Linked DNA regions of Homo sapiens. Changing the gene in region 1 together with any one later gene gives a genetic interaction. Each region holds a gene or a part of one and is shown in the gene's direction. Other genes may lie near its edges.

Region 1 (2,854 bases):
TCATAATCTATCAAAAGTTTATTTATTGGATGGCATTAAAACATTTTTGAGGCAGTTGTCTAATATGAACAATAATCTAAACAATATATTCCTTAAATTAAGAGGAAAGACAAGTGTCGTATTTCGATCCTGTTTATTCAAATGTGTGATTTTGCTGAAATGAAAGGGATAAAATGAATACTTAGAGAATAATACTTCATTTTTGCAGTACTTTTTAATTTTGATAAAAAAGATACAAAGTTCATAATATCAAAATATGTGTTCAAAATTGGTATTTTAATTTTAATATTTTTGTAAGTTGATTTAAATTTTGCTCTTTTTTCAGGTGTGCTTGGTTTATTATATTTAGTCAAGTTAATTTAGTCGAATGTGGTAACATTTTTCTGATTTATCTTTAGTTGGAGCACACCCTTGAACTGAACAGTGGCCAAAGGAAAGCTTTCTGGGCTTTGGAAAGTAGTTGTTTAACTTTGTTTTAAGCCGTTTTCTTAGTGATTCTGTATCAAGTAGAGGATAAGTGTAGTTTAACTTAGTTTTTAATATAACCCATAATCAAGAACATGAGCGAAAAGCAGACATAAATCGATATGGATGGTTTGTGGTGTGTGTGGGATGTGGGGGAATTAAGAAAATGCCATTTACCTAAGCACAGTTTGCCTGAATTTCTGCTTGGTTGTGTTGTTTACCGTAAGTACTGAGGGTAGTTTCCCTAAGTCTGTCCTGAGAAAAAGCATACTTAGTACTCCTGTATTTGTTCTTATGAAATGACTATCTGCCTTCTTGTATCTAGTAAGATTGGCTGGCTCAATTTTCTTCTGTCAAATTATATGGTTATTTTTTATATTACCACATCAGCATTATATTAAAAGTGTTTTTAATAGTTGATTGTATTTTGCCAACTACTAGTATAGACTCAAATTTGCTATTTAATTTTTAAAATACAATTTATTTTGTAAATCCTTTAAAAAATATTTGGTTAGTTTTGGATTAGAAATGATTTATGTTAGCCATGTGTTGAAGATGAAATTGGCATCAGTGTAGACGGTGCTGATTGGGAAAAGTTCATGATTAGGAAATTCATGTAAGACTTTTTAAGAGTATTTTTTAGGTTTTCACTCAATCTTTCCTGTCACAGTAACGTGAAAACTGATTATTCTTTACTCCAAGAGAATGTTTTAACCCAAGCAAGTATCTAATACTAGAGCATTGGTTCTGACATTCATTGTAAATCAGTGAACTGTAAGATACTGTCTAAAAAATGTACATTTGTAATTAGTGCCTTTATTCATATTTTGAAATAAGTTCTTAGTTTTATATTATACCTGTTCTTTAGAAGTCATGTTAGCAGCTAATTATTTCAGTGATGAAATAATTTGTGTTTTATATCCCCCTTCACCTCCATGTATTGGTTAGCACAGTTTATAGTAAGTGAAAAGCAAGGGACCCACCTACATTACCTTCAGGAGACTGTTCTACCTTTTAATTTGAAAACAAGGAAATTAAATTTTAACAGAAATCTTTTAAGTATGTTATAACCAAAGTGTTCAATTATCCTTGCAAGTTCAAATACAGCATTTTTCTTAATTTTGAGCGTGTCATGTCCTTCATCTTTAAACCCATCATTCTTATTGAAGCCCATTTGAGAACTCTTAGAATTAATAGAACCTTTTATAAGGGAATATATGGAATATTTTTTATTGTTAATGTAACTTAATTCCTTAAAACCTGGAATATTAATATATATAATCTATTAAAAGCTGAAGATTAAATATGTAATTTTTGCTTTTAGTTTCTTGTGTTAGTATGCTTAAAGGTATCAATACTTTTATTCTATATTCATTAGAAGAAAGGTAATAAATTTAAGTTTCATTGCTGAAAAATTTTAAATGAGTGCCACCCCATAGCCATAGTCATTTTGATTAAGCATAATTTAACTTTCATTATAGCATAAAGAGAAAATAATTATTTTAGTATGGAAACAGTGATAGGCAGTGCTGTAAACAATATTCTCTGAAAAGTTGTGGGGGTCACAAAGAAAATTTTAAAGAATATAGAAGCTTTTTTAAAAAATCTTTTTAGTGTAGTTTCTTAGAACAAATTATAAACATAATCATTCTGAATAATCAATTTTTATTTAGTCCTTAACTATGTAAAACCGTATCAGTAGAAAAATGTGCTGGTGTCGTGTCTAAAGATGGATAAATTTCTTTGGAATTTATCTTTGGAGACCAACTTTATGAGGCAGACTTTTTGTCTACAGCTTTGGAACCAAAAAAACTTCACTCTAATTCAGTCCTAAAGGCTATTTTACATTTTGCCGGGGTAAAGTGACTTCAAGATACAGCATGGTGTCTTGTATCTAGTAGAATATTGTGCTAGCCATCTAAAAAAGTGGATTTGAGCCTTAATTTGGCCGTTTCTCAATTGTCTAGTTGACCTTAGACAATTAGTGTCCATGGCTTTCCTTTTGTTTTTCCCATACTGAGGAACTTAAACTACAGCTCTAAAATGTCTTTTGGTTTTAAAATTCTGAATGCTTATATACTACTATTAAAAATTAAAAATCCCTCAAATAGTAGGGCAATACAGGTAATATGAAATTAAATGTATTTTTATCCATTATTTGATTCCCACCTGTTATTTTATTTAGAATACGAATACAACCAAGTAGGGAAAAACGTATCAGTAACTGCTATTCAACTTAAATTCAGCGAATTAATAGCTGAATAGAAATAGCTAATGACAATGCAAAAGAGAAAACAAGCCATATTGCTAAGAAAAGGATAGTAAGCTGCTTAGAAAGAACCAGCCTGTGTTGGAAATAATTCTCTTCTAGATAATTTACCTTATTTTC
Region 2 (3,333 bases), on another chromosome or scaffold:
ACATTTTCAAAGCACACCTTTCATTTGCATTTTTCATTTTGTTCTAGGAGCTCTTTGTTCAATGCCTAGCCACCTATTCCTACAGACACGGCAGTGGAAAGGAAAAGAAAGTACTGACTTACAGTGATTTAGCAAACACTGCACAGCAATCAGAAACTTTTCAGTTTCTTGCAGGTACTTAGTCTTTGAAACATTCTGGTTAAAAAATGATTAGTAATCAATAGCTCTTTCCCCACCCCTTGCCTCCCTTCTGCTCTCACGGAAAATTAGACTTTTTGCTACTTTTTCCAAGCCGCAAAGTACTATGAGTTGTCACAGGAAGATACTTTTAGTCTTCTCTGTTTGAATGTGTTTGTCATGTGGTCCACCTAGAACAATAGTGAAGCCAACAACATTCACAAGATGTTGGTTGGCCGCGTATGCTGGGCAGTCCTTTACTCTCTACAGGGACCCTGCCTGCCACTGAAGGGAAAACTCAGGGTGGGTCTACATGGCCGTAGTTAGAGCTTAAGTCTACCCTGGGGCTAGCCTAGGCTATCTCAGGTAGTCGGGCAGGGTTGCTCATAAAAGCAGCTCATAGAGACACCATGGTTTGTACTCATTGGACTGGAAAGAGGCCTATAGCGTTCGTTAGGAGACAATGCTAGTTTCTTTGATATTTTACCCAGAAATGCAGCCTGAATTTCATCTTGTTTTGGAACCTCTTATAGAGGTCAAAGCAGGAACTAGTACATTTTGAAATGTGCATTGCTGTGTTCATAGTCTACCATAACCAATTGCTGATGTACGCTTTATGTTTTTAAGATATATTACCAAAGAAGATTTTAGCTAGTAAATACCTGAAAATGCTTAAAGAGGAAAAGAGGGAAGAAGATGAGGAGAATGACAATGATAATGAAAGTGACCATGATGAAGCTGACTCCTAAACCAAAAGTGCTTTAAAAACCAGCCTGGCGAGGACAGCCCTGGACCCACTCCACTGTCTCTAAGTAAACACAGCACTGCCCGCTTTTAGCGTCTTCACTTCTTCACAGAGTTCCAGTGTGTGGTATTCTTTCGAGGTATTCTTTCCAGGCCGAGATTGAGCACCTCATGTACCTACGCCACAGACAGCCAGAGGGAAAGCGACCCAGACAGCAGCCCCTCCTCGACAGGCCCACCCTGCAGCTCAGGCACCAAGAAAACAGCCGATACTGGCAGCCATTGCAGCTCCAAACTGCAGAGGCAAGGCCAATTTTAACTTTTCAATTTACAGTCGATTTTGAAGAGCTTCTACATATCGGTTATGTAAATTCATATATGTATATTTTGGAATCAGTTCTTATAAACAGCTCGATTCAGTTTTAGCTAAATTTATAGTTTAGGTAGTATGTTACATTTGAATTTTTGTCTTAAGAAAAGTTGACTGTTCAGATATTTTTCTACTGTAAAGAAATATACTTTTCTATTAAAGATCTGTACATATTTTTACAGTAAAATGCTTTATGGAACTAGTTTTAGAGCCCTCTATGGCTTTAAGGCCTTGCTTACTGCCTGCAAATTTTGAGAAATTTAAAAATAAGCATTCTAACACTTTTATTCCCACAGAAAAATTCCAAGTCAAATTATCAAATCAAATACAAAAATAAGTCTTACCTCTTGTATAAGCATGTTGTACTAAAAAAAAATTTTGAAACATTTTGTATATTGGAGATCTCTCTCATCTTACTGTTCTTTGCTTTAAATTCCTGGCACTTCTTTTTACTGTCTATAAGAGAAAACCTATCATAAGCCCAATTTTTTTTTTCCACTTAGGGTAAATGTTTGGCTCCTCTCATTTCATTATCTTTTTTTTTTTTTTTTTAAAGACAGATTCTCACTCAGTTGCCCAGGCTGGATTGCGGTGGCGCTGTCTCAGCTCACTGCAACCTCCGCCTCCCAGGTTCAAGTGATTCTCCTGCCTCATCCTCCTGAGTAGCTGGGATTACAGGCGTGTGCCACCATGCCCAACCTATTTTTGTATTTTTTAGTAGAGACGGGGTTCACCATGTTGGCCAGGCTTGTCTCAAACTCCTAACCTCAACTGATCCACCTGCCTCAGCCTCCCAAAGTGCCGCCGGGATTACAGGCGTGAGCCACCATGCCTGGCCTTCATTATCTCTTTTTTAAAAATGAAAAAGTTTATAATTTACATTCAGTAAAATCACCCTTTTTAGTGTCTAGTCTGTGAATTTTGACAAATGCATGGTTTTGTAACCAATCGATAGGACAGTTCTGCCACCCAGGACATTCCCCTCTGTTCCTCTGTTCCTCTCTTCTCCTGCCCCCTAGCAACCACTGGTGTTTTCTGTCCCTCTTGTTCATTGACATTTATTTTAAAATAAAATATTTTAAAATCTACTTTTTGGTGTACAGTTCTGAGTTTTGGCAAATGCAGTCAAGTCACTACCACCACCACAATTAACAGCTATATCACCCTCCAGTAAATTCCCTGTGGTCAGCTCCTTCCCCACCTTTTACCGTGGCAACCGTCAAGCTATTCTCTGTCCCTATACCAGGTGTCATCAAATTTTTTTCTGGAAAGGGCCATGCAGTAAATAGTTCAAGCTTTGTGGGCTTTTATAGTCTCTGTTGCTGCTGCTGAACTCAGCTGTTGTAGCACGAAAGCAGCCAGGTAATTACTAGATGAAGGAATGCAGGTGGCTGTGTTTCAATAGAGCTTTATTTCTGCAAACTGAAACTTGAGTTTTGTGTAATTTTCATGTGTCATGAAATACTGTTTTCTCCAACCATTTAATAATGTAAATACTTGCTAGCTTATGTGCCATTAAAAAATGACTTGATTTGGCTTACAGACCAGTTTGGTGGCCTGTCTTTTCCAGAATGTCATATAAATGGAATCATTCAGTATGTAGCATTTGAGTCTGCAGTTGTTCTGTTTAGCAGAATGCATTTGAGATTCATCCGTGTTGTCACAGGTATCAGCAGTCCATTCCTTTATATTGCTGAGTAGGATTCCATTGTATGGATGTATCTGTTTATCCATTTTCCAGGTATATGGATAATTACCCATTTAGATTGTTTCTAGTTTTGATGATTGTAATTTTTTTTTTTTTTTTTTTTGACAGGGTCTCACTCTGTCACCCAGGCTGGAGTGCAGTGGCATGATCATGGCTTACTGCAACTTCCGCCTCCTGGGTTCAAGCGATTCTTGGGTCTCAGCCTCCTGAGTAGCTGGGATTACGGGCACGGCGTCACCACACTTGGCTCATTTTTTTGTACTTTTAGTAGAGATGGGGTTTCACCATGTTGGCCAGGCTGGTCTCGAACTCCCGACATCAAATGATCCGCCCA
Region 3 (3,500 bases), on another chromosome or scaffold:
CTTTTAACAGTGAACAAATTTCACTTGGTAAGAGTCCGTAAGGTGGTACAGAGGAATAGTAGCTGTATTAGTCCATTTTCATGCTGCTGATAAAGTCATACCCAAGACTGGGCAATTTACCAAAGAAAGAGGTTTAATGGACTTATAGTTCCACGTAGCTGGGGACAATCATGGCGGAAGGCAAGGAGGAGCAAGTCATGTCTCACGTGGATGGCAGCAGGCAAAGAGAGAGAGCTTGTGCGGGGAAACTCCCATTTTTAAAACCATCAGATCTCAGCCAGGCGTAGTGGCTCATGCCTGTAATCCTAGCACTTTGGGAGGCCAAGGCGGGTGGATCACTTGAGTTCAGGAGTTCGAGACCATCCTGCCCAACGTGGTGAAATACCATCTCTACTAAAAATACAGAAATTAGCCAGGAGTGGTGGCGTGTGCTTGTAATCCCAGCTACCTGGGAAGCTGAGGCAGGAGAATCACTTGAACCTGGGAGGCTGAGGTTGCAGTGAGCCAAGACTGTGCCACTGCACTCCAGGCTGCCTGGGTGACAGAGTAATACTCCATCCCCCAAAAAATAAAAATAAAACCATCAGATCTCATGAGACTTATTCACCGTCATGAGAACAGCACAGGAAAGACCCACCCCCATGATTCAATTATCTCCCACCAGGCCCCTCCCACAACACATGGGAATTACGGGAGCTACAAGATGAGATTTGGGTGGGGACACAGAGTCAAACCATATCAGTAGCCATACAATAGAGCATCTTGAAAGCCAGGCTAAGGTTTTATTTAACCTTTTTTGAAAAATTATTTTTTAAAATGGACAAAAAAATTAATTAAGAAAAAAAAAAACAGGCCTGGCACAGTGGCTCATACCCAGAATCCCAACACTTTGGGAGGCTGTGACAGAAGGATTACTTGAGGCCAGGAGTTCAAGACCAGCCTGGGAAACATAACGAGACTCCCATCTCTACAAACAATTTAAAAAGTAGTTGAGCATGCTGGCACACACCTGTAGTCCCAGCTACTCAGGAAGCTGAAACTGGAGGATTGTTTAAGCCCAGGAGTTTGAGGCTGCATTGAGTTTTGCCTGGGCACTCCAGCATGGGCTACAGAACAAGACCTGTCACTGAAAAAAATTAAATAAAAAACAGCAGGCAGTTGGCTTTTGAGCACTCTTTGTGTTAGAAAGACTGATATGAGCACATTGTGTGGGATGCTTTGTAGAAAATGGAACAGTTAGAAGACCTTTGAAGTAGTGTAGAAATTAAAAGATAGAATATGCTAACTCCGCTAATGACCTGAAATTTCTTCAAAAGAAAAAGAGCAAAAAGAAGGTAAGAACTCACAGTATGTGGGGGAGAGGTTTTTGTAAAACCTGTCTTAGAGTGATGAGTTCAGGTAATTGGAGTATTCCAAAAAGGACCTCTAATTAGAATGAGTTTGAAAATGATCATAGAGTTTTAAAGTTAACAAGGACGTTAGAGAGCAAATAGACCCAACTTCCAGAAACTGGATGCAAATTTGTGCATACACGTACATATGTTTGTCATATATGGATGGGGTCTCTGCCTTTCATTAAATTAGGAGTTGACAAACTACAGCCCAAAGACCAAATTTGGTCCATTGTCTGTTTTTATAAGGCTTTTGAACTAAGAATGGTTTTCACATTTTCAAATTATTGAAAAGAATATTTTGTGACTTGTGAAAATTACATGAAATTCAAATTTCAGGCCAGGTGTGGTGGCTCCTGCCTATAATCCCAGTGCTTTGGGAGCCAAGGCAGGAAGATTGCTTCAGGCTACGAGTTTGAGACCAGCCTACACAACATAGCAAGGCACCGCCTCTACAAACAAACAAAAAAGAAATTCAAATGTCAGTGTCCTTAAATAAAGCTTTACTGACACACAGCCATACTCATTTGTTTATGTTTTATCTGTGGCTGATTTCCAGCTACCACAGCAGAGTTGTATATAGTTGAAACGGAGATTGTATGGCCTCTAAAATCTAAAATATTTGCTAATGACTTCAGAGAAAAAGCTTGCCAACCTCTACATTCGATTGTGAAAAGATCTGATTTTCAAAAGTTTGAGAACATATACTTTTGTCTTTCTATGTTGTAAATATTGAATTTCTTGGAATTCAGTAAATACTGGCAATTCAGTAAATTCAGTAAATATTGAATTTATTTTTATAAGAGATTAATAAAATAGCAAAGGCATATACTTTAAGATGTCAGTACTATAAAGATCAAAGAATACAGTAGTATGCATGTTCTAAAACATGATTTTATATTTCATGCCTTTATTCACTTTTATAATAATAATTATAAGCAGTGTAGTACTCACTAGGGGTCTTAGGCTCAACTAGACATTCAGACTCATGATATATAATAATGCTATTTTTCTTTTTCTTTCTTTTTTTTTTTGAGAGAGGATCTAGCTCTGTCACCCAGGCTGGAGTGCAGTAGCATGATCATAGCTCACTATAACCTCAAACTCATGGGCTCAAGGGATCCTGCTGCCTTAGCCTCCTGAGTAGCTGGGATTGCAGGGGTGTGACACTATCCCTGTCTAATTTTTTAATATTTTTTAGAGACAAGGTCTTGCTATGTTGCTCAAGCAGGTCTTGAACTCCTGAACTCAAGCAAGCCTCCCGCATCAGCCTCCCAAAGTGCTGGAATTACACATGTGAGCCACCATATCTGGCCAGATAAGCCAATTGTGACATCAGAATCACTTAAGAGGATATAGGTCATGAAGCACAGCTTGATATTGACCTGTATTTGTGTGAGTGTTGTCTTTTGATCAGGTTTTAGGTGTCAGTATTATGGTTGCTTAATAAAAGATTTCGGATGTTTTTCCAGTATTTTCAGTGCTTTGGAACAATATGTGCATCAGGCTAGACTCAGTGGCTCATGGCTGTAATCCAGCACTTTGGGAGACCAAGGCAGGAGGAGCCCTTGAATCCAGGAGGATCCCCAGGACTCACCTGGGGAATATAATGATCGATGTCCCTACAAAAAAGAAATTTAAAAATTCTCTGGCCATGGTGGCGCATACTTGTAGTCCTAGCTACTTGGGAGGCTGAGGCAGGAGGATCACTTGAACTCATGAATTCGAGGCTGCAGTGAGCTATAATTGTGCCACTGCATCCTAGCCTGGATGACAGGGCAATACCCTGTCTGAGAAAAAAAAAAAAACAAAAAAAACAAGACAAAACAAATACAGAGAACTGTGGATCATTTAGATTACCTATTCTTTGAACGATTTGTAGAATTCCCTGCAAAATCATATGAGCTAGTTCTTTTCTTTTTTAAAATGGGGAAGCTCCCTGATAACACTTTTTCTTTTTTTTTTTTTCCTATGAATATAGTATGTTTAAGCAGTTTATCTCTAAGGGTGTCAATTTTGTTAAGCTGTTTTTTTCTAGGAAATAATCCATTTCATTTCATGTAGATTTTCACATTTATCTGCATAGAGGTCTGTAAAGTAGGCTCTTAA
Region 4 (3,500 bases), on another chromosome or scaffold:
GGGTGTCCTTGTCTGCCAGAGGATGGTTGGACTAGATACCCTCTCATGGCAATCGTTTTTGATTCTGCAGTTTAGTGTAGTACAGTGTCAAGACTTCTGTCACTGGCCAGGCATAGTGACTCATGTCTGTAATCCCAGCACTTTTGGGAGGCTGAGGTGGGAGGATCAGTTGAGCCCAGGAGTTCAAGGCCAGCCTGGGCAACATGTGAGGCCTTGTCTCTACAAAAAATGAACAAAATTAGCTGTGTCTGGTGGTGCATGCCTCTAACCCCAGCTACTTGAGAGGCTGAGGTGGAAGGATCACTTGAGACCAGGAGGTGGAGGCTGCACTGAGCTGTGGTTGCACCACTGCACTCCAGCCTGGGCAACAGAGCAAGATCCTGTCTTTAAAACAAAAAACAAACAAAAAAAACCTCTGTCACTGACCAGGGATCTAATGTATTTGCTGTACTGCTCACAAATGCTTATGTGGCTCAACTTTGGTATGTTACAGGTTCAGCTTGTTGGTTTAGATGAGGAGAGTTCAGAGTTTATTTGCAGAAACACCTTTGACCACCCATACCCCACCACAAAGCTCATGTGGATCCCTGACACAAAAGGCGTCTATCCAGACCTACTGGCAACAAGCGGTGACTATCTCCGTGTGTGGAGGGTAAGCGGATGCTTTATTAGCAGCCAGACAAGTGGGCTTTCTCAGCCTCAGCTGTTAGCAGTGAAAAGTCACAGAACAGACAGGGGTCAGAGGCAGCGAGTGTCATTGCAGCACAGGAGAAGCAAGCGAAGCTTAAATGGACTGGCCTCGTTTGGCTCAGCAGATTTTCTAGTATATCAAGTCAAGATTCCATGAAGTCTGGCTGCTGGCTGCAGTCAGCTCAGTCAACCCGAGGTGATGATGACGGCCTTCAGTGGAGGTGGGAATACTTGGGAACTCATATTCTGTTTGCAGCCAAGGTATTTTTGAGTAAACTAAATGAAATACCAGGCCATTGATTCTGATAAAGTGTGTGAGTGGATCTTGGAGGCTTCCCTCCACCCTCAGCTGAGCTCATCAGCAGCAGCGTCCTCTGTAGCATGGGCGTGGCCTTAGTACACCTGTGCAGAGGTTCCAGGCTGGGCAAAGTGAGAAGACCTCTCCTCTAGGAAGGTGCAGGGATGAAAATGTAGAAAACAAAGCTGGGCAGAGGAGAAAGTATGGGAAAAAGTAGCATTCAGGGAGTCCTGGGTTTATTACTGTTTTTGATAAAAATGTTTTCCCCTCATGTCTTATGTTTGCTAAGATATTTTCTAAACAGGGATTTTTTAAAAGACTTTTTATGAGGATAAGACTGGCTGATTTTTTTTAAAATTCTTGTTCCTTCAGGTTGGTGAAACAGAGACCAGGCTGGAGTGTTTGCTAAACAATAATAAGAACTCTGATTTCTGTGCTCCCCTGACCTCCTTTGACTGGAATGAGGTGGATCCTTATCTTTTAGGTAAGGGAGTTAGGGAGTATGTATTTCAGCTGGAAGAAGCCAAAATAAATTTTCTCAGATGTCACACTGGGCCATACATCCTAGAACAAGGCTCAGTGGGAAGTAGGCTAGGCGTGGAATGTGGTTATTTATTAATTCCTTTGTGTGGGTGAGCTTTCCGTGTGTATAGATCTTGTCTCTCCAGTTAGAATCTAAGGTCCTACGGTGAGGACTGAAGACTTGACTGCCTCGGTGGCTCTGCCGGTAGCCCCCACCTTGTTTTCTGTAGTCTTTATGGTATGCTGCTCCCTGGGCTGAGCAGATGAGTAAACACAAGAGGGAAGCTTGCATGAGAACCTTGGTCCCGTCAGCCCTGACTTGCACTGGTTGTTTGCAGGTACCTCAAGCATTGATACGACATGCACCATCTGGGGGCTGGAGACAGGGCAGGTGTTAGGGCGAGTGAATCTCGTGTCTGGCCACGTGAAGACCCAGCTGATCGCCCATGACAAAGAGGTAAGATGCTTTTCCATTTCGTCTTTCCTCAAATGCTTCCTGTGCCTTCCGCACAGGAAGAGGTCAGCTTGTTCTCTCATTGTTCTGCAATTTATGTAGAAAATCATAACATAACATCTTCTTGTCTAAATTGACAATAGTAATGTATCAAAAACGGGAAAACAACACTATTGTAAACTAATGCTTTTTTTTGGCTAATGTAAATGACCTATTCTACGGTCTGTCATTGTTCTTTTCATGCCAGAGGTTGCTTTTTTTAAATAACAAAGTCTCTTATAGAGGAGCTGGGAACTGATGTGATTAAAAAATAACTTTAGAGTAATACTTATCTTGAAACAGATTAGATTTGGGGAGGAAAGAAGGGAGACAGGAAGAGAAAAAATTTTCTGAGAGACAAACGTAATTATTCATTTTTCTCTATAAATGTTTTACCAAATCCTAGTATGTTCACTTAATCTTTATACTTTCATTACTGTTGGCAGTGGAGGCAATGGAATATATTTTATTTTGATGGCGATGCTTCTGTGTTTATTGGGAAAACTGAGAAGAGCTATTTGTGATTGCTTTTTTTTTTTTTTTTTTTTTTTTTTTTGAGACAAAGTTTTCCTCTTGTTGCCCAGGCTGGAGTGCAATGGCGCAATCTGGGCTCACTGCATCCTCTGCCTTCTGGGTTCAAGCAATTCTCCTGCCTCAGCTTCCGGAGTAGCTGAGATTACAGGTGCCCGCAACCACCCCTGGCTAATTTTTGTATTTTTTAGCAGAGACAGGGTTTCACCATGTTGGCCAGGATTGTCTCGAACTCTCCTGACCTCAGGTGATCCACCCACCTTGGCCTCCCAAAGTGCTGGGATTACAGGCGTGAGCCACTGCGCCCGGCCAATTGCATTTTAATCAAAGCATTCTTCTCAGTGATTTTGGAAAATCCCCATAAGTCTTTTCCTCCTACAGCCATTGCATGCTCCTGGTACTCTCATCTCCTGTGGGTACTATTTCCTGTTCTTTTCTACCTTACCCTGCACAGCTAGGGGTATTAATATCTATACAGATAAAAGGAATGCCTTGATCTTAGGTCAGAAACTTGAGGTTGTCAACAGCATAGGAAGATGTGACCCAGGTTATCATTCTTAGTAAGGGGTTGTCTTTGGCTTTCTGTACTCCTGAAGGTAAGCCCTGTTACAAGACTTCTAGAGTTGACTGCTGCTAAACCAGGGGTCAAATGAAGAGTTTGTCCCACAGAGAGGACCAGTAAGGAACTTCTGGAAACCCTCTTGGCATCAAGTTGAACAAGCGGCTACATTTTAGTTATATGACAACTTAGCCTGCTGTTGTCTGTTAGGTCCAACCCAGAAAATGGGAACTACTCTTAAGTATTTGAACTGCAGGGATTTAATCCAGGGGCTGCTTATACAGAAGATGGTAAAGCTGAGAAGCCACATAGGTAGCAGTGAGGTCATCCATAGAATGGGAGCAGCAGGAAGCTGCAGCTGCCTATAGGCCAGAGGGACCATGGGAGGAGGCAGGGTTCCTGGAGCC
Region 5 (3,500 bases), on another chromosome or scaffold:
GAACTTCTTTGTTCTTCTTTCCACGAGAATTAAAACCTTAAGTTTCTCATTTTTAAAAATGGTCATTGGCCGGGCGTGATGGCTCACGCCTGTAATCTCAGCACTTTGGGAGGCCGAGGCAGGCAGATCACCGGAGGTCAGGAGCTCGAGACCAGCCTGGCCAACATGGCGAAACCCCATCTCTACTAAAAATACAAACTTTAGCCGGGCGTGGTGGCGGGCGCCTGTAGTCCCAGCTACTCAGGAGGTTGAGGCAAGAGAATCACTTGAACCCAGGAGGCGGAGATTGCAGCGAGTCGAGATCGTGCCACCGCACTCCAGCCTGGGCAATAGAGACTCTGTCTCAAAAAAAAAAAAAAAAAAAAACATTGTCATAGTGGCAGGCACAGTGGCTAATGCCTGTAATCCCATAATCCCAGCACTCTGGGAGGCTGAGGTGAGTAGATCACTTCAGCCCAGAAGTTCAAGACAAGCCTGGGCAACATGGGAAAACCATATCTCTACAAATACTCGCCTGCTTCTGCCACTCTGCACCATCAATATAAATAATAACTAATTCACAATAATCAGTCATGAAAGAATAAAATGGAAAACATGCCAAATGCAGGCCCCTGCTTTGTTATCACTGCATGCCATACACATAAAGTTCTCTGTCACGTGACTACAGGAGCATCTCCATTCCTGTGCCTCGTCCTCAGGTATCAGACGCAAGCCACTCGCGGGCTGAAGTCAGCCCACAGTCCTCCTTGAAGTCAACAGAAATGAACTACTGAGCCACGAGGGGCCTAGACCTGGGATCCGCCAGCGTTTTCTGTAAAAGACCATAGAATAAACATTGTAGACTTCCTGGCCATACAGTATCTGTCCAGCTCCTCAGCTCTGCTGTGAATGCCCAGCTCTTCCATGGTAGCACAGAACCTTATCACCGTGCAGGTGCACACGAGGCTGGGCTCTGGGTTCCTGTGAGCTCTGCCTACCAACTCAGGCAGTAGGGGGTGGGGGGCGTCCAAAGGATGTGCACAGATTGCCAGCACCAGGCCCAGCTGCTGGAACATCCTCATAGCTTTACTCACATCTACACGGACGCCTTAAGTTCACCCCATCAGTGCAGGGAGACAGGGGCCTTCAAATGTGATGACACGACACTGCTGTGGCCTGTGCTCTTGGAAGCCTGCAAAGGCCAGCACACCCGACCCTCCTCTGCCTCACCTCCTGTGCCACCCCATCCTCACCTGCTTCCCCAGCCTCTCCTCATCCACACCTGCTCGGCCCCTCCTCCACCGCCTCCCTCCGGCCCGCTGGTCCTTACTGCATCCCCTCGGGCCCTGCACCCTGCCCTCTGCTCCCTGTGCCCCCCATGCCTGCTCTCGCCTTGTTTTGCACACATTCTGTCCTCTTCTAGGGTCTCCGCCCCCTCCCCTTCCCTGATTAACTCCTGCCTGTCCTCACTGTAGGTCATGTCCTGAGGGAAGAGGGCCCCAGCCTTTCTAGCAGGAAAGGCCAGAGCCTTAGGCCTAGGGAACCAGGAAGGGAGCAGTTATTAGTTGCCCCTGGATACAGAATCTGCCTAGATGCATATATAGAACTGGTTCAGACTTGGCACAATCTCTTTCCCTCTCACTCTTTCACATTTGCAATTCAAAGAGAATATACAGAGCCATTTGTATTATATAAAGTGATTATTGCATTGAATTTAGACTAGAGAAGGCATTTGGAGATCGTTTTAGTAAATTATCGTAACCAATCTAAAAATACTTCTGAACTGTCAACCAGAACACAGAAATCCTGTATTACTTGCTGTAGTCTGGACAGTTTAGGGGAACGTGGCACCGATCTCATCTTCACCGTCGATCAGTGGTTCTCTGACTTGGTCCAGTGGCCGCACACCAGCTAGTGAAGAAAACCACAGACTCCAACTGCACTGTGTACGCTCTGGTGTCCTCATTTCCAAAAAAAAAAAAAAAAAATCTACAAGATAGAGTTTAAGAAATCTCATTTGAGTTGCCCTGCTAATATTTGCAGCTCGCTGGTGGGTGCCGTGGAGGCCAGTACTCACCGTCAGGCTGTGGCAGGTACAGTGAAAGGAAAAACTCCATGAGAGAACGGTGGAAAGTTCACCTGAGAGTGAAACGCATGCCAGTTAGAGTGGCTGAAAAATAGCATGGACAACACCAAGTGCCACGGGACGTGCAGCCGTGGGACCCCTCACTGCTAGGGAAGGCAAGATGGCACGGCCACTTAGGAAGACAGCTTGGCGGCCTCCTACAACACTAAACATACTCTTAGGTACAACCCAGCAATCCAGTTACTGCATTACGCTCCTGGATATTTCACCCAGTTATGCCGAATGCTTATATCCACACAAGAATCTGCCCAAAGATGTTGATACCAGCTTTATCCATAGTTGCCAAAAACTAGAGGCAACCAAGGGGTCCTTCGATAGGTCAGTGGGTAAACACACTGGTAATGTGGACAGTAGGATGTTCAGCATTTAAAAAAAAAACAACTATCAACCCCTCAGAAGACCTGGAGGAAACTGAGATGCCTGCAGCCCAGGGACGGCTGGTGGCTTGCAGCAGGTCACACGGCTACTCAGGCGTAGAGCCTGGCCTGTCTGAAGCTCAAGGCCCAGCACCCGTTCCTTTCCTTACACATAGAGTTTCACTAGGCACGCACACGCTGACTCTGGATTGATGAAGAAACAGTTTGGGAATTTTTAACAGCATCGTTCACATTTTTAATGCCTGCCTCCTGCCTGGCACTGTGCTCAGCACTTTCATGTATCTTCTTTAATTGTCACATCTGTGAGGTGGGACAGATGACCTCAGCTCTGTAAACTCAGCCATTGCTGAGCCTGCAGTGTGAGTGTGAGGCCACATGTCAGAACCCCGGAAGACACAAGCCCCACTCTCCTGCCTTCAACACAGCCCCCCACACCGCCGCTGTGGCTGGAATTGGAGCAGGTCGTTAGCTCCTGCCTGAGGAAGCCCAAATAAAGGACTGCAGAACAACTGTAGTGCAAAGCTGAGACTCATTGCCCTCCTAGGCGTTTCATGAGCAGGTCCTGAGTTCTCTGTGTCCCGGCGTGGAGTGCAGGAGGCGTGGAAAGGGAGTAGTGCGTGTGTGAGTTAGTATACAGAAGAAGTGTGTGGCAGGCTCTACCACACGTTTTTAAAATATGTAAACTCCTAAACTTCTTGTCAGAGAAGCGCTTGGCATGCACACAAAATCATTTAGCTAATTCTTGAGAAACATATTGTTTAATTGTCTGTCTCCCTTGCTAGATCATACCACTAATGAGTGCTCGTTCACTAACCTCCCCGCCAGCCTTGCAGTCTCTGTCAGGCAGGAGGTACTTAAAGCATGTTTATTGACTGGCTGCAGAAATGAGGACATCTACCGTATTCAAAGATAGTGCCCGTTACATTGAGAAAAGACAGAGTGAGCATCCACTTTTAGCTTCTTAAAAGGTTTAAACATTCTGATCTTATTTTCCCATT
Region 6 (3,500 bases), on another chromosome or scaffold:
AGACTATCAAAAGCATATCAAAACAAGTATATTAGACATGCAAATGATTATTTGTGATAAATGGATAATGTGATACATTTTTTGACTAACCTGGCTTATATAGTATTTTTTTTTCTCTTCCATCAAAATGAGTTTTAGAACTTTGCCCTGATGTTGACATTTTTCATTTCGTAGGAGGGAGCAAAGGAGTTTGCTGCTGCTCTCACCGCTGAGCGGATAAAGACCCCACCAAAACGTCCAGGAGGCCGCAGAAGAGGACGGCTTCCCAATAACAGTAGCAGGCCCAGCACCCCCACCATTAATGTGCTGGAATCAAAGGATACAGACAGTGATAGGGAAGCAGGGACTGAAACGGGGGGAGAGAACAATGATAAAGAAGAAGAAGAGAAGAAAGATGAAACTTCGAGCTCCTCTGGTAAGACACGTCTAATAACTGGGTTTTACTGTTCTGTGAAAGTTCGTGTTGTGAGGATTAAGGATGTATAATGCATTGAATAATTTTCTTAGTTGGTTAGTTTCAGTATAAAGACCAGAGTTATCTCAAGAATGTGTAGCTGTGTTGTTTCTGTTTCCTGCCTGCACCCGTACCCTAGCTTGTGGTGTTTGCCCTGCTTGGTTGTTTGAAAGCTGATGATGCACTTTATTCTCATTCTTTGTGCCATTTTCTTTTTTCGATCTTTCTCAGGTAGGGAATAATGAAATTTGGATCATTTGGTTTAATATTCTTGACGTTCTGTGAGTAGTTTTGTTGGAAAATGTGAACTACGATGGGTTAGTGTTTTGCCGATTGGATTTGAGTTGTCCTCATCTTTTCGCTTTTTTCTTAAGCACACCCTGAATTGTACTTCTTAATATTATTTCCAATCATTTCTTGACCAGTGCTTACATTTGGTTTTGTAGAAGCAAATTCTCGGTGTCAAACACCAATAAAGATGAAGCCAAATATTGAACCTCCTGAGAATGTGGAGTGGAGTGGTGCTGAAGCCTCAATGTTTAGAGTCCTCATTGGCACTTACTATGACAATTTCTGTGCCATTGCTAGGTTAATTGGGACCAAAACATGTAGACAGGTAAGATATCCGATAAAAATGTTGTTAAAAGAGCTTCAAACATAGAGATAAAACTGTACTCGTTGTCCAAACAAAGAAAATTCTTGGTTATTACTAAGCTCCTATTCATCTCCTAAAAATAATTTTTTTTTCTTCCCAAGAGGGAATTGAATGAAAATTATTCTCCAGGTATGTTACAGAATTTCCCCAATGTAGACTTTTAAGGTTAGATAGCAGTAGCTTTTAAAAGCTAGTAAGAATTGAAATTTAGCATCACAGTTCTTGACCAGAATATAATTACAGCTACCCCTAATGTGAGGGTAGGGACAGCGATGTGTGTTATATCCCCAGCATCTAGCAGTGTCACAGAAGAGACAAAGACATTTTTCTGGTATGCATGAGTATAAGAATGGTTTGCCTAAATAAGACTGTCCTCATGGCTCTGTGACTGTGCCTCTTGTCAGGTGTATGAGTTTAGAGTCAAAGAATCTAGCATCATAGCTCCAGCTCCCGCTGAGGATGTGGATACTCCTCCAAGGAAAAAGAAGAGGAAACACCGGTGAGTCTGTCATGAAGCTCCTTAGAGAAGTCAACATAGATAGACACTGCAGGCAAGGCCCTTCCTAAGGGCTGTTGTTGGTTTCTACTTAGTCTATTTTTAAAAAACCTTAAACTGCCATCAAAAACAGAACTATGGAATCTTATTTCCACTGGGAATTGCTAGTATTTTTCTATAAGAATACAGCAGCCTTCAGTATATTTGGTATGTTAAGAGTCATAAAAATTACGGTTACCAGACTGCATTTGGGTTAAGAAAAACATATTTAGTAGCTTTTGCAGTAAAGGTTACGTAAACAATTACTTTAACATCATGAAATGTTCTGTGTTTCTGATGTGAGCTCTGGGCCAGTTTTTAGAAGTATCTTTTATTCCAGGAGCTTGAATTTCTAAGTTGTGTGGCATTGCATTCCGATACTCCTAATGGGTACCCTACTTTAAGCTTGTGTGAATGTTATTTTCACCTTAGCGAATGTTTTCAGGCTGATTTGATTTGTAAATGTAGAACCAGAAAAATTGATGAGTGGACTATCTGCTCTAATCTCCCCATACCTCTACCTCACATTTTTAAAAATGAGAAACCTAATTGGGTAGGTAAGGGTGCAGTTAGATTATGCTTCTTAAATTGTGTACAGGCTCATGTTACATTTTCTTACTTTAACAAAAATAAGTGTAGGGCCAACCCAATTTAGAATTTTTTTAAAGTCAAGTTTTTATTTTTATTTTTTAGGCTTTAGGAGATGCTTCTGAAATTTTGGTTGAATTATTTCTGACCACGTAGTTCACTTGCTTGGTTTATGATGCCTGAAATAAGAGGAAGTGATCAGTGTCATCCACATCAGAATAAATCAACAGGCAGACACACCTGCTGCTTTGTGCAGCATTGGGAGCTCAGGAGTTCTGACCAGGAGTCATGGATGAACACAGGAAATGACGTCTTGCCACACCTGGGGCAGCCTGAGCCATCAAGCTGTTTGAGTTGCTTCAAACTGATGGCAAATATAAACTGGGCAGGGCATGACTCTTGGCTTTAACGCATTCCTGTATTCATGGCACAGATAGATCCAGTTAAGCAGCTCTCTGTTGGATTTGTAGCTTCCCGCAGAAATTTGGTTTAATTTTCTTTGTGTTTTTGCAGGTTGTGGGCTGCACACTGCAGAAAGATACAGCTGAAAAAGGGTTAGCATCTTTCCATTCCTCTCATTATTAGCTTAACAATATCTGCTTTGTTTTCATTTGTTTTAGAATAGTAACTGGATTAGAGCTTGGGTTATTCTAATATAATTGCCTTCTGTATGTTAAACCAATTTGAATGGAGGACGTCTACTGATGAATCCCCAGTCAATTCTCTTCTGTAAAGTGGAGGCTGACTGGAAGGTGTGAGTCCGAGTCAGTTGAAGGAGAAGTGCTTTGGGATGGGACTGAGATGTAGCCGTGCTTTAGATGGAACTCATAAGCACTTGGGGGTGGGAGAGTATTTTTTGCCATCGTTGTGGAAACCGGAATATGTGTAATGTTATGCATTCAGTAAAGGCAGGCCAGCTACACTCCACAGGTAGTAGGGAAGAATGTACTCGTGTTAATTGTGTATGATCGTTTCCATCTCCCTGGATTCATTGGCCTGCATGATGTTATCTTTACTCAGACGGCTCCTCTAACCATGTTTACAACTATCAACCCTGTGATCATCCACGGCAGCCTTGTGACAGTTCGTGCCCTTGTGTGATAGCACAAAATTTTTGTGAAAAGTTTTGTCAATGTAGTTCAGAGTGTAAGTATTTGTTGCTTTGATGCAATTGCATGAGAACTAAATAGGTCTTTGGTTAGCAATTTAAAAAATCAAAAATAAGAACATGGGAGCACTCCCTTGTTTACTTGACGAAACTCATCAAT
Region 7 (3,500 bases), on another chromosome or scaffold:
GCGGGAGGAAGAAGAGGCCTTTGCCAGCAGTCAGAGCAGCCAAGGGGCCCAATCCCTCACATTCTCCAAGTTTGAAGAAAAGAAAACCAACGAGAAGACCCGCAAGGTTACCACAGTGAAGAAATTCTTCAGTGCATCTTCCAGGGTCGGATCAAAGAAGGGTAATGTTCTGATACTCTTTTTTTTCTTCTCTGCCTGAGTGAGACACAGAGGAGATCCCCAATGCTCATAAGCTCAGCTTTGTAATTTCTGTCAACTTTTTGAGAACATCAGCTCAGATTTGACACTGAAATTGGGCTTGAGGGTCAGACAGTATATGAAATCAATACTCTCTTTGGTTGAAAGACATTGTGTTTTAGAGAAATTTGTTTATAGGAGGAATCAAGAGAATTGAAATAGGTACTTTTGCTTATGAAATTCATCCCCATCCAAATGACTATCTCTTTGGATGTTTTGGTTTTTGTGCCTTTATTTGTGGATCCTGGTTTGTTCTGTGGTATAATACCCTCACTGTTCATAGCTTGTCAGAAATGGTGATTTCTAGGCTTGATAGTCATCTGAGAGAGAGATTTTCTGCCTGAGAGCTTATTTGAGAGACAGCTTGTGTCTTGAGGAAGTGTATTGAGAACATATAGGAAAAGGCCCAAGTTGGGCTCTTGGGGGGATGAAAGTGAGCCATAGTAGCTATTTTCCAGTGCATGGATTTGTATGTAGGTGATCATATTCACCCTGCTTTTTAAAATGCCATATAACCAGCAAGAGGATTGTCACTTAAGTCACAGTTGTTCTACCATTGAGCAGACTAGCTAGTTGAAGTGGCCCAACATGAAGCAAGAAAGACTCTTTGTTGTTAGGCCTCAGTCTGTCTTTGAAAATTTATGTTGGTACTCAGAGTTATGCAGTCAAAGCGAAATAATGAGGGAGACTGGGAACCAACACTGATGCTGTCAGAAGACCTGTTCTCTGGGAGCCCCCTCACTTGCTCCCCAGTTCCTACCCTGGGGTAATTGTAATGAGGTCTCCCCTGAAGGCCGGGGAATGAATAATAAGACAGTGTTACTTCTTAAGATACTTGCTGGTCTTCTAGGTTTTGTGACTTTTGCTGTTTCCTTTTGTTTTATTAAAAGGAAATATTGCTCATAACCAAAAACACACCTCTCTTTAAGACATGGATACCAGACCTGGTGCGGTAGCTCAAGCCTGTAATCTCAGCGCTTTGGGAGGCCAAGACAGATGGATTACCTGAGCTCAGGAGTTTGAGACCAGTCTGGGCAACATGGTGAAACCCCGCCTCTACAAAAAATAGAAAAATCATCCAGGCACAGTGGCATGTGCCTGTAGTTCCAGCTGAGGCCAGAAGGCTGAGGCAGGAGAATCATTTGAATCTAGGAGGAGGAGGTTGCAGTGAGCCGAAATCGTGCCATTGCACTCCAGCCTGGGTGACAGAGCAAGACCCTGTCTAAAAAAAGGAAAGAAAAGAAAAAAGATTGATTACATGATTAATTTGAAGTTGTTTCTTGGTTGGCTGCCAGTTGTAGCAATTTTATCTCTACGAAAAAGGGGGGAAAAATTAGTACCTGCCAGAGATTAAATAAGAATGTATTGGGCTCATGATTTATTTATTAGGAGGTGGAATAGCCAGGTAGTAAGGTGACTTTGGAGTCACTCCTGGTTTGAGCCCTAGCTTTGTATTTACCAGCTTTGTGACCTTGGACAGACTAACCTCTCCGAGTCCTGTCCACACTGAGGGACAATAATACCTACCAGAGGCACGTGATGAGGATTCAGTGAGTTAATGCATGTAAAGAGCTTAGCACAGTGCCTGACACACACAGTAGATCTCCAGTAAGTGTTAGCTGTTTTAAAATGCAAGTTATTCTTCTGATAGAATTATCTTGCAGGGAGCACAAGGGCATTTGCTATGAAGAATACTCATTCCTATTTAGCTTAAGGTCTGTTTCTTGATGATATGTAGTGAAATGATAAGTATTTATGATAACAGATGAAATAGTAAAACAAGTATAAAATTATCAGCTCCAATAGCCTCATTTTGCAGAGGACAGTGTGAAAGTCCATAAAGGTTAACTAATTTACCCAAGGTTGCACAATGAGTTTGTGCATGAGAACTCATGTCTCCTAATTCCTGGGTCAATATTTTTCCATTATATTCCTTTATCCAATGTGTATACTTCAGAAGCCCAGGTTATTTAATATATATCATAAATAATATATATATATGAAATTAAGTTTCTGTTACTTAAGTACATAATTGTCATTTATATTTGCTAACTCTCCTTGGTGGTTTTAAAAACCTGTGTCCCAAAAGCCTCTGTACAGTGTGCATTATACTATTGAAAGAAAATTTACAATTCAATGCAGAGTCTGTACTTTAAAAAGAAACATTTCTGGAGCTGGGTGCAGTGGCTTCTACCTACCTATAATCCCAGCTACTTGGAAGACTAAGGTAGGAGGATTACATGAGCCCAGGAGTTAGTGGCTGCAGTGAGCTCTGATTGTGCCACTGCACTCCAGCCTAGGCAGCAGAGTGAGACACCAACATTAAAAAAATTAATTAATTAATAAAGAATCCAGGTGAATTTTGTTTTAAAAATATGTATGCAGAATGATTTTTACCTTTGTTCTTGTCTCCCCTCATCCCCCATCTTTTTGAATGATAGATTTGTACTTTAGATTGTTTGTTCTTTAGTTGCTTTTTGTCTGTAGAAAGCTTTGGGGATAAAGACCTTAAAGTATTTTAAAAATTCATGTTAGAAAAGAAGATTCCATTGTATCTTTGTTTCACAGATCACTTAATATAACTTAGCCAGGTAAATTTTGCATTTCACACTGATTACTTTTGTTTGGCCATTGTGTTTGGATAAGATTAGCCTAAGTGCCGTTTTAATGTATTAGGTCTAGACTAGAAACAGACTTTTTGGATTCTGTATTCTTGAATCTTCCTTAGTCCATGATACCCTTGCTGTTGGTGTTTTACTTGCTTCTGTTAGTAGCATAAAGGAAAGTTTTTATGCCATACGTAGCAGCTTGGTAGCAGACAAAATACAAATAACCTTCTAAGGAATTTGAAGAATATCTTCACATTCTTTTAGAGTTGGATACGCCTTCAGAGAAAGTAAATGGAATGTCTTGACTGTAAAGACTCAGTTAAAGTGTTTTAGTCTCTACAGTCAGGGTGAGTGAGCTGTATAGAGGAAGTCATAGTGGTTGACCAAGCTGAGATACTTGCTTATACATTCCAAAGTGCCCTTTTCTTTCAGAACTCCTATAATGTTGTCATTCCAAGTAGAATCTTGTGTACCTCTTTCATGAACGGATCTGAAGACGGTGATTCTCTAAAGCATATCTTTTCATTTTTAGAGTTAAAATACCAATACCACCCAGACCTTAGAAAGTAAACCTATTATTCATTAAAGTGAATCAGGGCTTCTTGGAGAAGTGACTGATTCTGGGGCTAGAGTAGGGAAAAAAGGGCCCCTTCA

Evidence for each region.
Region 2: changes in ARL5B (region 1) and CHRAC1 together harm fitness less than expected from each alone (positive genetic interaction), as found in Homo sapiens cells (one large-scale study listed by BioGRID).
Region 3: changes in ARL5B (region 1) and TRAPPC13 together harm fitness more than expected from each alone (negative genetic interaction), as found in Homo sapiens cells (one large-scale study listed by BioGRID).
Region 4: changes in ARL5B (region 1) and DCAF7 together harm fitness less than expected from each alone (positive genetic interaction), as found in Homo sapiens cells (one large-scale study listed by BioGRID).
Region 5: changes in ARL5B (region 1) and TRAPPC12 together harm fitness more than expected from each alone (negative genetic interaction), as found in Homo sapiens cells (one large-scale study listed by BioGRID).
Region 6: changes in ARL5B (region 1) and EZH2 together harm fitness more than expected from each alone (negative genetic interaction), as found in Homo sapiens cells (one large-scale study listed by BioGRID).
Region 7: changes in ARL5B (region 1) and RABGEF1 together harm fitness less than expected from each alone (positive genetic interaction), as found in Homo sapiens cells (one large-scale study listed by BioGRID).

Annotation. Positions count from the first base shown.
Region 1 is NC_000010.11:18,676,431-18,679,284, forward strand, and holds part of ARL5B (ADP-ribosylation factor-like protein 5B), read left to right. Parts: 3' UTR 1-2,854.
Region 2 is NC_000008.11:140,514,322-140,517,654, forward strand, and holds the end of CHRAC1 (chromatin accessibility complex protein 1), read left to right. Parts: intron 1-47; coding exon 48-174; intron 175-804; coding exon 805-926; 3' UTR 927-2,833; downstream 2,834-3,333. UniProt on the Homo sapiens protein: Forms a complex with DNA polymerase epsilon subunit POLE3 and binds naked DNA, which is then incorporated into chromatin, aided by the nucleosome remodeling activity of ISWI/SNF2H and ACF1.
Region 3 is NC_000005.10:65,638,527-65,642,026, forward strand, and holds part of TRAPPC13 (trafficking protein particle complex subunit 13), read left to right. Parts: intron 1-3,500.
Region 4 is NC_000017.11:63,577,977-63,581,476, forward strand, and holds part of DCAF7 (DDB1- and CUL4-associated factor 7), read left to right. Parts: intron 1-493; coding exon 494-652; intron 653-1,360; coding exon 1,361-1,472; intron 1,473-1,848; coding exon 1,849-1,967; intron 1,968-3,500. UniProt on the Homo sapiens protein: Involved in craniofacial development. Acts upstream of the EDN1 pathway and is required for formation of the upper jaw equivalent, the palatoquadrate. The activity required for EDN1 pathway function differs between the first and second arches.
Region 5 is NC_000002.12:3,417,694-3,421,193, forward strand, and holds part of TRAPPC12 (trafficking protein particle complex subunit 12), read left to right. Parts: intron 1-3,500. UniProt on the Homo sapiens protein: Component of the TRAPP complex, which is involved in endoplasmic reticulum to Golgi apparatus trafficking at a very early stage.
Region 6 is NC_000007.14:148,814,792-148,818,291, reverse strand, and holds part of EZH2 (histone-lysine N-methyltransferase EZH2), read left to right. Parts: intron 1-174; coding exon 175-415; intron 416-900; coding exon 901-1,070; intron 1,071-1,513; coding exon 1,514-1,608; intron 1,609-2,337; coding exon of another isoform or gene 2,338-2,344; exon of another isoform or gene 2,345-2,739; intron 2,740-2,745; coding exon 2,746-2,786; intron 2,787-3,252; coding exon 3,253-3,378; intron 3,379-3,500. UniProt on the Homo sapiens protein: Polycomb group (PcG) protein. Catalytic subunit of the PRC2/EED-EZH2 complex, which methylates 'Lys-9' (H3K9me) and 'Lys-27' (H3K27me) of histone H3, leading to transcriptional repression of the affected target gene.
Region 7 is NC_000007.14:66,775,233-66,778,732, forward strand, and holds part of RABGEF1 (rab5 GDP/GTP exchange factor), read left to right. Parts: coding exon 1-161; intron 162-3,500. UniProt on the Homo sapiens protein: Rab effector protein acting as linker between gamma-adaptin, RAB4A or RAB5A. Involved in endocytic membrane fusion and membrane trafficking of recycling endosomes. Stimulates nucleotide exchange on RAB5A. Can act as a ubiquitin ligase.